3 linked regions of the Homo sapiens genome follow. The protein of the gene in region 3 interacts with the protein of the main gene of each other region in a pairwise test. Each region holds a gene or a part of one and is shown on either strand. Other genes may lie near its edges. The genes, in order: PTPRR, PPM1F and AATK.

Region 1 (3,654 bases), on a different chromosome or scaffold from region 3:
CCTAAAAACTGCCTCTGTATCCTCTCCTCCCTTCTCCCCCCGCTTCTTTTTCCCTTCTTTCCTTGCCTCCTTTCCTTCTCCTGCTGCTCTTCTTCCTGTTTCTTCTCCTCCATCTTCTCCTTTCCTTTATTTTTCTTACCCATGAGTCCATCTCACAGAGTAAATCATAATCTTCCCATTTCCATGCCGTTTCACTGATGTCAAAAACCACCCCTTATATTCCCAAGCCTTACTAATCCTCAGTTTGCTCAGATTTCTGTCCAGGCTAGAACATTCTTCACTCAGCAGCCTATGCTGAACTGAAATGGCCTGTAGTTGCTACCATTCCACCATTTTCACTTGCACCTCTGGGTTCCCTCCTTCCTGGTGTTGTGGCCTTGTGTCTTGACAAATATCCTGAGGATCCAGTGACAAGAGCTATGGATTTTACAGCATACTTTCATCTAAAGCGGTATTTTTTTCCTCTTACCATAGTACTGACCTTGAGGCATTCAATATCTTCTCTACATTGTACTTGCACAGAAATCCTAATAACAGCTTCTTAATTGAGTTCCGGAACATAGTTAGCATTATTTGGGATAAACATTCTAATTGTGTTGTACTCTCCTTGTAACAAATAAACTATAAATTTTCCTGATTACTAATAAAAAGAAGAAAGAGGGAAAAAATTCATTTGTGGATAAATGCTCTTATGAAATGCTTTGCGGTGGCAATTGGGAATCAGGAAGGGAGGAGAGACACAACTTTCATGCCCTTTTTAAAGGTAGCATTCTAAAACTCATTGCCAATGATAGTTGAAACAAGAAAGAAAAAAGTATTGGAGGAAAAATGCTTGATCCTTCCTTCTGAGCTAGGAAGTCTTAGAAGTTACATATAAAGTTTAGAGGTTGAGTGTAGCTTTTTACCCTGGCTGGAAAAAAAATGCCTATAATTTCTCCAGTTCAAGACACTGATAGTCAGAACATGGTCTATTTGAGTATAAATTAAGTCTCAAAATAATTCTTAGTACCACTGCAATATCCCTCAAACAAGAAGGTCTGCATTGATGTATATGTTTTATACTCATGTACATATGATAAGCACAAACACACATCAATTATTCCATTAAAGTCATTATGCTGCCCCAGAATATATCCCTTGCTTCCTGTATGCCCCATCCATACATCCATTTTCTGTATGGAATGGGTCTTCAAATCAGCTGACATTTAATTGCATCACCCCTTTGCTTTTTGAGGAAGCTAAACATTATTGATTTATTTAAAAAATAACCCTGCCTCCCCAGTTTTGCTGCTAAATCATCATGCACATAAGTAATCTAAGTGGATTGCAGGAAACATTAGGACTGGCAATTGGTGTTGCCAGCTACCAAAGCCACAGCATGGTCAGAGGCTAGGGAAAGCTAATGCAGCAAAATTGCCTATTGCCTCTATGTAATCATCACCCCAAAGGAAAAGCACAGCTTCTTCATCAATCTCCAAACCACAAATAAGCTGAAAGTGAAATGACCTGCCAGAATTCCTCATTGGTGCCTTTTATTGTCCATGATATTAAATTAACTAGACAGTACATGACATTACAAGATAGAACAAGCCTCTTGAACTGTAATTCACAGTGACTTTAAGAGTTGATGACTATGGGTATATGATGGTCACTAAGGAAATATCTCCCATGAGCCCTAGCATTAACAGGAGCATCTCCAGATACAGAGACATCATTAACATCATTTATCTTCACTGAATAGACAGAGTACATGACTTTCACCTTCAGAACATCTGCTACTCATGTAAATGCAGAAAACTTGTTCAAGTATTTCAGGATGCCAAGTGACCCACATATTTTCTCTTAACAAGAGTTCATCTTGTGTTCTTAGCTTATGATTTTTATTGAATTATTGATATTTCCCTCTGGACATTTTCCAAGCAAAACAAGAGACTGTATTTCATTTGTCTCTGTTTCCAGATATCCCAAGGGGAAACTAGATCATAATAAATACTGAGTGTATGCTAGCTGAAAACATTGACGAATGGAACTTTGATTCTCAATATTAAGTAAAGTATACTATATGTAGTAGGTTAAAAAAATAAAGAAAAAAAAGAAGCTTGTTAGATTTAATTACATTTGGTGCATAGAGGAGTTGCCAAAATGCAAACATGGTTTCATTGAATTATCTTGGCCACACAAATCAACTCATTTGATTATATTTTGGAGCAGAGATGCAATAACAACCATTTAACTACTGATTTGTAGTTTCAATGTGGATCCTTCTATAATGATGTTAAACCAGAGAGTGACTGTAGTTCAAATAGGGTGTCAACCTCAGTATGTATTTAAACTATGATAACCTCCACAATTTGGAAACCTCTGACCTGGGTTATACAAGCAAGGGAACTTTAAGAACATAAGCAATGGGATCATTGTATCACTTTTATTAATAAAGAATGGTTATTATTCAGTAATATCAAAAATGTTATCTATCAATTACTCCCAACTCATTTTATTTGCTCCAGTGACAGAAAACTACTCTCCCTCTACCACACCTCCCCTTTCAGTTGTCTTATTTATTGTAATTTGAGTCAAGTGACCAGAGGATCTTCAATAAGTATTATTTATTTACACAGGCTGAGACTAAGGCCTATCTGCTTAAAACAGATTCTCACAGAAGGTAGGAGGCTCAGTACAAGATATAATCAACTATAATTGTAAGGCCTTCCTAAAGTAATCTTTTATTCAAATATTTATTAAGCATCTACCATGTACCATGCATTCTGCTATGAGCGGAGGATACAGACAAGTTTTCTGATTTCGTAAGAGGAAGAAAACAGACAACAGTCAAGTAAGAAATTAGAAGTACCACAGAATAAGTGCTGTGGTACATACCCGTTGGGATTCATTGATAACTATTCACAATCAGTGTTTTTCTTTTTTCAAGCATCAATGACAGGAAAGAATCAACATCAGCCTCAGCATCAGTTTAACATACTACTTACCACCACAATTACATTTGCTGCTGGGATTGGGAGATTTTCCACTTCAAGATCTTGACCATCCATGGCCAGCAGATTGAGAGACGGGTCATATGCGGGTCTAGGAAATGCTGAATTGACAATCTGGTGGCGTTTGCTTACTTGAGCTTCGGAAGAGGAATGGTAGCTATGTCTGTAGATTTTTTGTGGGGCTATATCCAGGCTCTTCTCAATGTCTTGTGAATGCTTATAAATGAATACCGGCTTCCCACTCTTCTTCTGATTAATTGCCAAAAAATGATCATTGTTTCCTGAAAAGCACCCTGAAAGAGGGAAGAAGCAGAAACAATATCAAAGACCCTATTCAGTAAGAGAGGTAGATATATCTGATGAAGAGGATTACCCTTTCTTGAGAGGCTTTAAGACTTGTGAAGGATTTAGGTTAGTCTCCATATTTCTTTGTCTGCTTCATGATCCTCAACAAATAGTATACACCTGGTGGTATGAAGGCCTCTCAAAGACTTTAGGTGGATAAAAGTGGGCGTACTTTGAAAAAGTTCTATTTTTCAGATATTCTGATGCCACTTTTACTAAGAAATTTCCTCCTTTATCTACACCCATAGTTTCAATACCTACTTGGGCTTCTATTCCTGGATGTCCTATCTGCTGCTGAAATTATAAATATTTTTAT
Region 2 (3,654 bases), on a different chromosome or scaffold from region 3:
GGCCACCCTCTGCCAGGAACAGTCTTCCTCCTCTGTCACTTCTTGACAATGTCCACCCAGCTGCTGCTCCTGGCACCATCTCCTGAGACCGGATCTCTGGATGCCCACAAGTCCCCACCTGGACTCATGTCAAAACAGTGGCCAGGGTTGTCCCTCCACCCTCTAGTGGCCCTGAACCATGAGGCCATGCACCTGCCACATGGTGCTTGCAGGTGGGCACCTGCATTGCTGGTGCCATGGCCCCCTGATTCTGCTGACTCTGACATTTCTCCCCAGGGTGAAGCCTGGAGACCCTCTTGCCCTGGCCTAGCTGCAGGCCCCCGGGATGCTTTGGGCATGTCCTCTGGAGCCCCACAGAAGAGCAGCCCAATGGCCAGTGGAGCTGAGGAGACCCCAGGCTTCCTGGACACGCTCCTGCAAGACTTCCCAGCCCTGCTGAACCCAGAGGACCCTCTGCCATGGAAGGCCCCAGGGACGGTGCTCAGCCAGGAGGAGGTGGAGGGCGAGCTGGCTGAGCTGGCCATGGGCTTTCTGGGCAGCAGGTAGGCCTGTGCACCCCCAAAGGGGACGGGGAGTAAGGGCACGGCACCAGGGCCGACAAGGGATGTGGCTGCTGCTCCCCTACACGTCCAGCCCCACACGGGGATCTGCAGCCCCGGATCCCTATGCAGCACCATGTGGAACTCCCGTGGCTGCTATGGCAAAGCACCACACACTGGGCACTCAACACAGCCAAAGCTCATTCTTTCACAGGGCTGGAGGCCAGAGTCCAAGATCAAGGTGGCAGCTGCGCCATGCTCTCTCAAAGGCTGCAGGGAAGAGTCTGCCTTTCTGTTAGTGCCTGGCCTTGACTTCCTGGAGGTCCTTGGCTTGTAGACTCATTCCTCCTAGCTGGCCTTGTTGCACACGGCATCTCCCCATGTGTGTGTCTGTGCCTTCACACCTCCCCACCCTGCCTGCTGTGTGTCTGTGACTCCTCCTCTTGTAAGGACATGGGCATTTTGGACCAGGGGCTGCCCTCCTACAGTGTGATCTCATCTTTCTTTTTGTGGAGAATGGGGTCTCGCTATGCTGCCCAGGCTGGTCTCGAATTTCTGGGCTCCATGGATCCTCATGTTTTTGCCTCCCTAAATGCTGGGATTACAGGCATGAGCCACTCCAGCCAATGTGACCTCATGTGAACATAACTAATTACATTTGCAAAGACTTTAACTCCAAATAAGATCATATTCTGAGCCACAGGGGGCTGGGGCTTCAACATACCTTTTAGGGAACACAATTTATTGCATAGCAGCTGATAAGCAGTACGTCCTGTTTCCGATCCGTGTGATGGACGAGGAGGCAGAGGTGGGTAGATGAAGAGGCTGGCCTGAGGCCTTACAGTCAAGGAGTGGCAGAGCCACATGGCACCCCAGCCACCACGATCTGAGAGATAGCTGGCACTGTCCCCCTTCCACAGGTGAGGAAGCTGAGGCACAGAGAGGTAGCACAACTAGCCGAGCAGATTTCGGGGAAGATAGAGAGTTGGGTGTCCACCGGCAGACAGTGTGTAGCTGTCGCCTAGGCTGAACTCAGAGGTCCTTTCCTTGGAAGACCCTTGCCCTCCCCTTCATTTATTCATTCATTCTGGAAGCATTTGTCCCATGAAAGATGGTGAAGGACAAGGTCTTTTCTCGAACCCTCTCTGCTCAGACAGGGTCTTGGAGTTAGGCTGTCTGTCTGGCACAGGGGACAGCTCATGGAGGTGAGCAGGCTGGTGGGCCGCGTGCTGTTTCTGTGAACCTAGTCCCTTGCTGAGGGGATGTGCGCATGGTCCCCAGTCCCAGCATCACCCAAATCACCTGAAATATCACCTGAAGCCATGACAGGCCCTCAGCCATAGCTCCCTCTGACAGAGCCACCATCCTCGGTGGCTGCCTCAGTATCCCCCAAGTGTGCACTTCCTTTGCCCCTTGCAGCGAATCAACTCTGTTCCTGACACCCACCAAGGGCCTATTTTCCTTGACCCCAGGCCCTAGCAGAGTCAGTGACTTGTGCTCTCCCTGTGCAACATGGGCACAAACATTGCTAAGTGTCAGCCACATGCAAGGGCTATGCCACCCAGCATCCCCCACAGCTGCCTAGAGCTCAGGAGGAAATGTCCGGTGACCACGCTCCATGAGGTCATGGCATGCGCAAAGGGTGTTATTGGCTTGTTTTGAGGAAATATTTTAGATATGTGGCACAAAGTGAATCAGCCCCCAGTGGTGGAGCAGAGTGGGCCCAGCAGGGGTGCCAATGCACGGGAGGTGAGGAAAGGCCTCACGTTCTGCCTTCTTGAGAGGAGCAGGTGGCACTCTGCAGGGAGCAGGGGAGTCCAGACCAGGGAGTTCTGCAGCCACTGGGTCTTCGTGGAGGTGGCATGGGGCCATTGCTGCCTTGAGGCAAAAAGCCAGGCCCGGGACAGAAGGGTTGGTGCACTTTGGCCCAAGCATGAGGTGACCGGGCAAAGCCAAGCGGTGCCAGCCCCAAGCTGGGGATCAGATGGAAAAGCCATCCCGGGGAACAACAGAGCCCAGGGGTTTGCTGGGCCTGCGTGGGGCACAGGTGCTGAAGACGGACAGGCCGCAGCACCGGGGTGACAACATCAGCCTTCAGTTCCTGGGCAGGGGGAGAAGGGCGCAGAGCAGGGTCCCAGGGAAGGATCCAAGGTGGGAGGGCCTGGAGGGCTGAGGAGTGAGTAGGCAGTGCAGGTGACCTGCCCAGGAGGGCCCCGAACCAAAGTGTTGGGGTCAGTGCTGGGGGCGCAGGGGAGGGCAGTGGGTTTTGGTTTTGATGCGAGAGCAGCCAGACTTGTTGAGCGGCTGCTGTGTGAGCCACCTAGTGATGGGTGCGAGCAGGAGGGGTGCAGAGCTCCCGAGTCTCCTCAGCCCCCAGGAACCCACCTTACATGGTGAACTAAAATGGAGTATTTGAAGTTGTTATATGTTCCAGCCATCTTATTGGATTTATTTTTTAAGTTATTTTTGTTCTTTTCTAGCATCTTCTTTCACACGCAGGTGTGGATGTGCATAGGTGTAGTCAGCACTTGGGGTCTGAGCCTCACACGTTGTCTACACTAAGCCTGGCTGTCCACACACACGCACTCACATGTGCCCATACACAGTCACGAGTTCCACCTCCGAGCTCTGCTTCCCGTGTCCCAGCCTGAGGAGGGGCTCTTGGGCATGAAGGGCTTTGAGCATCTTGGTCCCTGAGCTCTTTCACAGACCGTAAAAGGCATCCTTCTGGAGGCCATCCAGGAGTCAGAACATCCAGTCCACAGGGGGCTATTTACGCCTTGTCTCCGCTCTTGTTTGGAGCCTCCTGTCACATATTTGAGTCCCTGAGCAGTGCATACCGTACACTAATGATTTGAGTGTGGTTTTTGTCTCTGCCACTAGACTATAAGCCTCTTGTAACAGCCCCTGCCCCAAGGTCGGTGAGACGTGTTTCTCAGGCACCTGGGCCTTGCATACACCTTGGCTTGTCCCTGGAGCATCTTCTTGCCTTGTGTAGGAGCCTGCTCTGCAGGGACCAGAATCAGGGTGGATCTGCATGGTGCAGTGACTCAGGGCTGAGGGCCTCTAGGGCGTGTCCCAGGCCAGACCCTGGGATGAGGCGGGAGCTGTGTCC
Region 3 (2,367 bases):
CCTGGGCACCGTGGGGCCGGGGCACCGTGGGACCTGGGTCTGCAGGGACTTCTGGCTGGGAAGGTTCCGGTGAGAGGGCCTGCCGCAGGTCTGCGGGGTAGGGTCAGGCAGAGGAGAGCCGAGTGCAGGGGCCAGGTGAGGGCCAGGTGAGGGTCAGGTGAGGGTCAGGTGAGGGTCAGGTGAGGGTCAGGTGAGGGCCAGGCGAGGGCCAGGCGGGGTCCAGGCTAGGTCTGGGGCCGGGAAGGAGCGGGGCCGGGAAGGAGCGGAGCGGAGCGGAGCCGGGGCTGGCCCGGCCCAGGACCTAGACGGAGGGGCCCCACCCTCGGAGCTCCGTGCCCTGCCTCCCGCGTGCCCTTCTGCCACAGCCCCGCCCAGGCCTCACCTCTCTTGGACTCGGCGTCCGAGTCAGACACGTGCGTGATGGAGAAGCGGGACGTGGGCGCGGGCGACACCGTGAAGCGCGAGAAGGGAGCGGGCGTGGGCGTGGGCGCAGCCGGGGCGGGTGCGGCCGGGTCTAGGGCCATGGCGAAGGCTGCCTTGGCCGTCATCAGCGGGAAGTCGTCGTCCCACGCGAACCCACCACCTGCAGCCCAGGTCGCGGCGTCACTCGCGCTCACAGCCTGGGACCCCGGCCCGGCCCCGCTCCCACAGTCACGGGCCCAGGCCCCGCCTCCCATCATGTCACGGGCCCAGGCCCCGCCTCCCATGATGTCACGGGCCCAGGCCCCGCCTCCCATGCAGCACGGACAAGGCCCCGCCTTCCGTGACGTCACGTACCAGACCCGCCTCCCATGACGACACGGGCCAAAGCCCGCCTCCCACGCGTCAAGGACCAGGTGCTCCTCCCATGATGTCACACATTAGGCCCCGCCTCCCACACAGCACGGACCAGGCCCTGCCTCCCGTGACGTCACGGGCCCAGCCCCGCCCCTGCTCACCCTCTTCCGCTGTGGAGCCATTTGGGGAGCCATCAGCCTGCTGCGGCCGGTTGGGGGCGCTGGGAGAGCCGGGGCTCCCCCTAAGGAACGTAGGGGGCGATTCCTTGGCGCCCGGGAAGGGCTCCCCGAGCTCCCGGGTGGGGCTTTCCTGGAGGAATCAGAGAGCACCAGGTAGCTCGGCCGCCAGGAGCCGCGGCCGCTCCCACCCCTTCCTGCGGGAGCGCGACCCCCAGCCCCGGGCAGACCCCGGGTGGCGGCGGCCCACCTGGTCAAAGAGGTAGACGGTGACGTCGTCGAAGAAGGACACGGCCTTCTTCTTGCGTTCCAGGTCCTCGCAGAAGGTCTCGGACAGCAGGCTGGGCATCTTGAGCAGGCTGCGCAGGTTGCGCGCGCTCTGGCTCTCAGCCACCACCACGGGCACCGCCGGCGCCTCCTCTTCGCTGTCCTCGCTAGGCTCCTGGACGCTGTAGCAGCGGAGCTCCTCGTCAGACTCGTCGCTGTCCTCACTGTCCTCCTCCTCCTCCTCCGGCCGGCCCTCCAAGGCCGCAGGGAGGCCGGGCAGAGCCAGGCGGAGTGGGGCTCTGGGGGTGCCTGGGCCCCCCATCCGCTTTTGTGGGGCCGGCCCTGACAACAGTCCTGGGGGCCCCTGGAACTCAGAGCTGTTGCCTTCTGATCTCAGCGGAACCGGGGTCAGCAGGAAAAACTGGGAGCAGCTGGGGCTGGGCCCAGGCCGCACCTTGGCTGGGCCTTGGGGCTCCGGAGGCTCTGGGACCAGGCCCGAGGGGCAGGTGCTGGGCTCTGGGGAGGACCCTTCAAGCTGCAGCAGTGGGGGCAGCACCTCCCCGGGGCCAGAGCCTTGTGCCTCCCCGGAAACCCCAGGCCTGAGACAGACCTGCTCAGACGGCTGCCCAGTGCTCGGCAGGCCCAGCTCTGGCCCGGGGGCTCGGTCCCCGCCGCACTTCTTCTCTGGGCCTGAGGTGGCCTCGGCCTCAGCCTCGAGGTCTGAGAAGTAGGCAGAGTCTCGGTAGGGATTCTTCTCGTTGAGGCCACTGAGGGAGGTGGAGAGCCGTGTCTCGGGCCCGGGGCCCTCACCCTCTGAGGCCAGCTCCGCAAAGGCCTGGGGCTCACACCCTTCCTGCGCCTCCTTGAGCACAAACTCAGGGGACTCATAGTTCTCGGTGTCATAGCCACTGTCCAGCGCTCGCGGCTGCCCTCCAGAGGGGCCAGTGGCCGACGGGCTGAAGACCTCATAGCCACCATCACTGGCTGAGGACGGGATGTCCAGGGAGTCCAGGGAGTCGGGGGTCCCCACCTGCTTCTGCAGAGAGCGGAAGGCTGGCACCACATCCGGCCTCCTGGCCTGCAGGCCGTCGCTGGACGTGTCGGTGAAGATGCCTGAGGTGGCCTCGGCCGTGTCCTCATCCTCACT

What was found.
Region 1: the proteins of AATK (region 3) and PTPRR interact in a two-hybrid assay, tested with the Homo sapiens proteins (one study listed by BioGRID and IntAct).
Region 2: the proteins of AATK (region 3) and PPM1F interact in a two-hybrid assay, tested with the Homo sapiens proteins (one study listed by BioGRID and IntAct).

Annotation. Positions count from the first base shown.
Region 1 is NC_000012.12:70,889,692-70,893,345, forward strand, and holds part of PTPRR (receptor-type tyrosine-protein phosphatase R isoform 1 precursor), read right to left. Parts: intron 3,287-3,654; coding exon 2,988-3,286; intron 1-2,987. UniProt on the Homo sapiens protein: Sequesters mitogen-activated protein kinases (MAPKs) such as MAPK1, MAPK3 and MAPK14 in the cytoplasm in an inactive form.
Region 2 is NC_000022.11:21,942,731-21,946,384, reverse strand, and holds part of PPM1F (protein phosphatase 1F), read left to right. Parts: intron 1-276; 5' UTR 277-336; coding exon 337-542; intron 543-2,950; exon of another isoform or gene 2,951-3,654. UniProt on the Homo sapiens protein: Dephosphorylates and concomitantly deactivates CaM-kinase II activated upon autophosphorylation, and CaM-kinases IV and I activated upon phosphorylation by CaM-kinase kinase. Promotes apoptosis.
Region 3 is NC_000017.11:81,118,998-81,121,364, forward strand, and holds part of AATK (serine/threonine-protein kinase LMTK1), read right to left. Parts: coding exon 1,204-2,367; intron 1,087-1,203; coding exon 939-1,086; intron 584-938; coding exon 383-583; intron 1-382. UniProt on the Homo sapiens protein: May be involved in neuronal differentiation.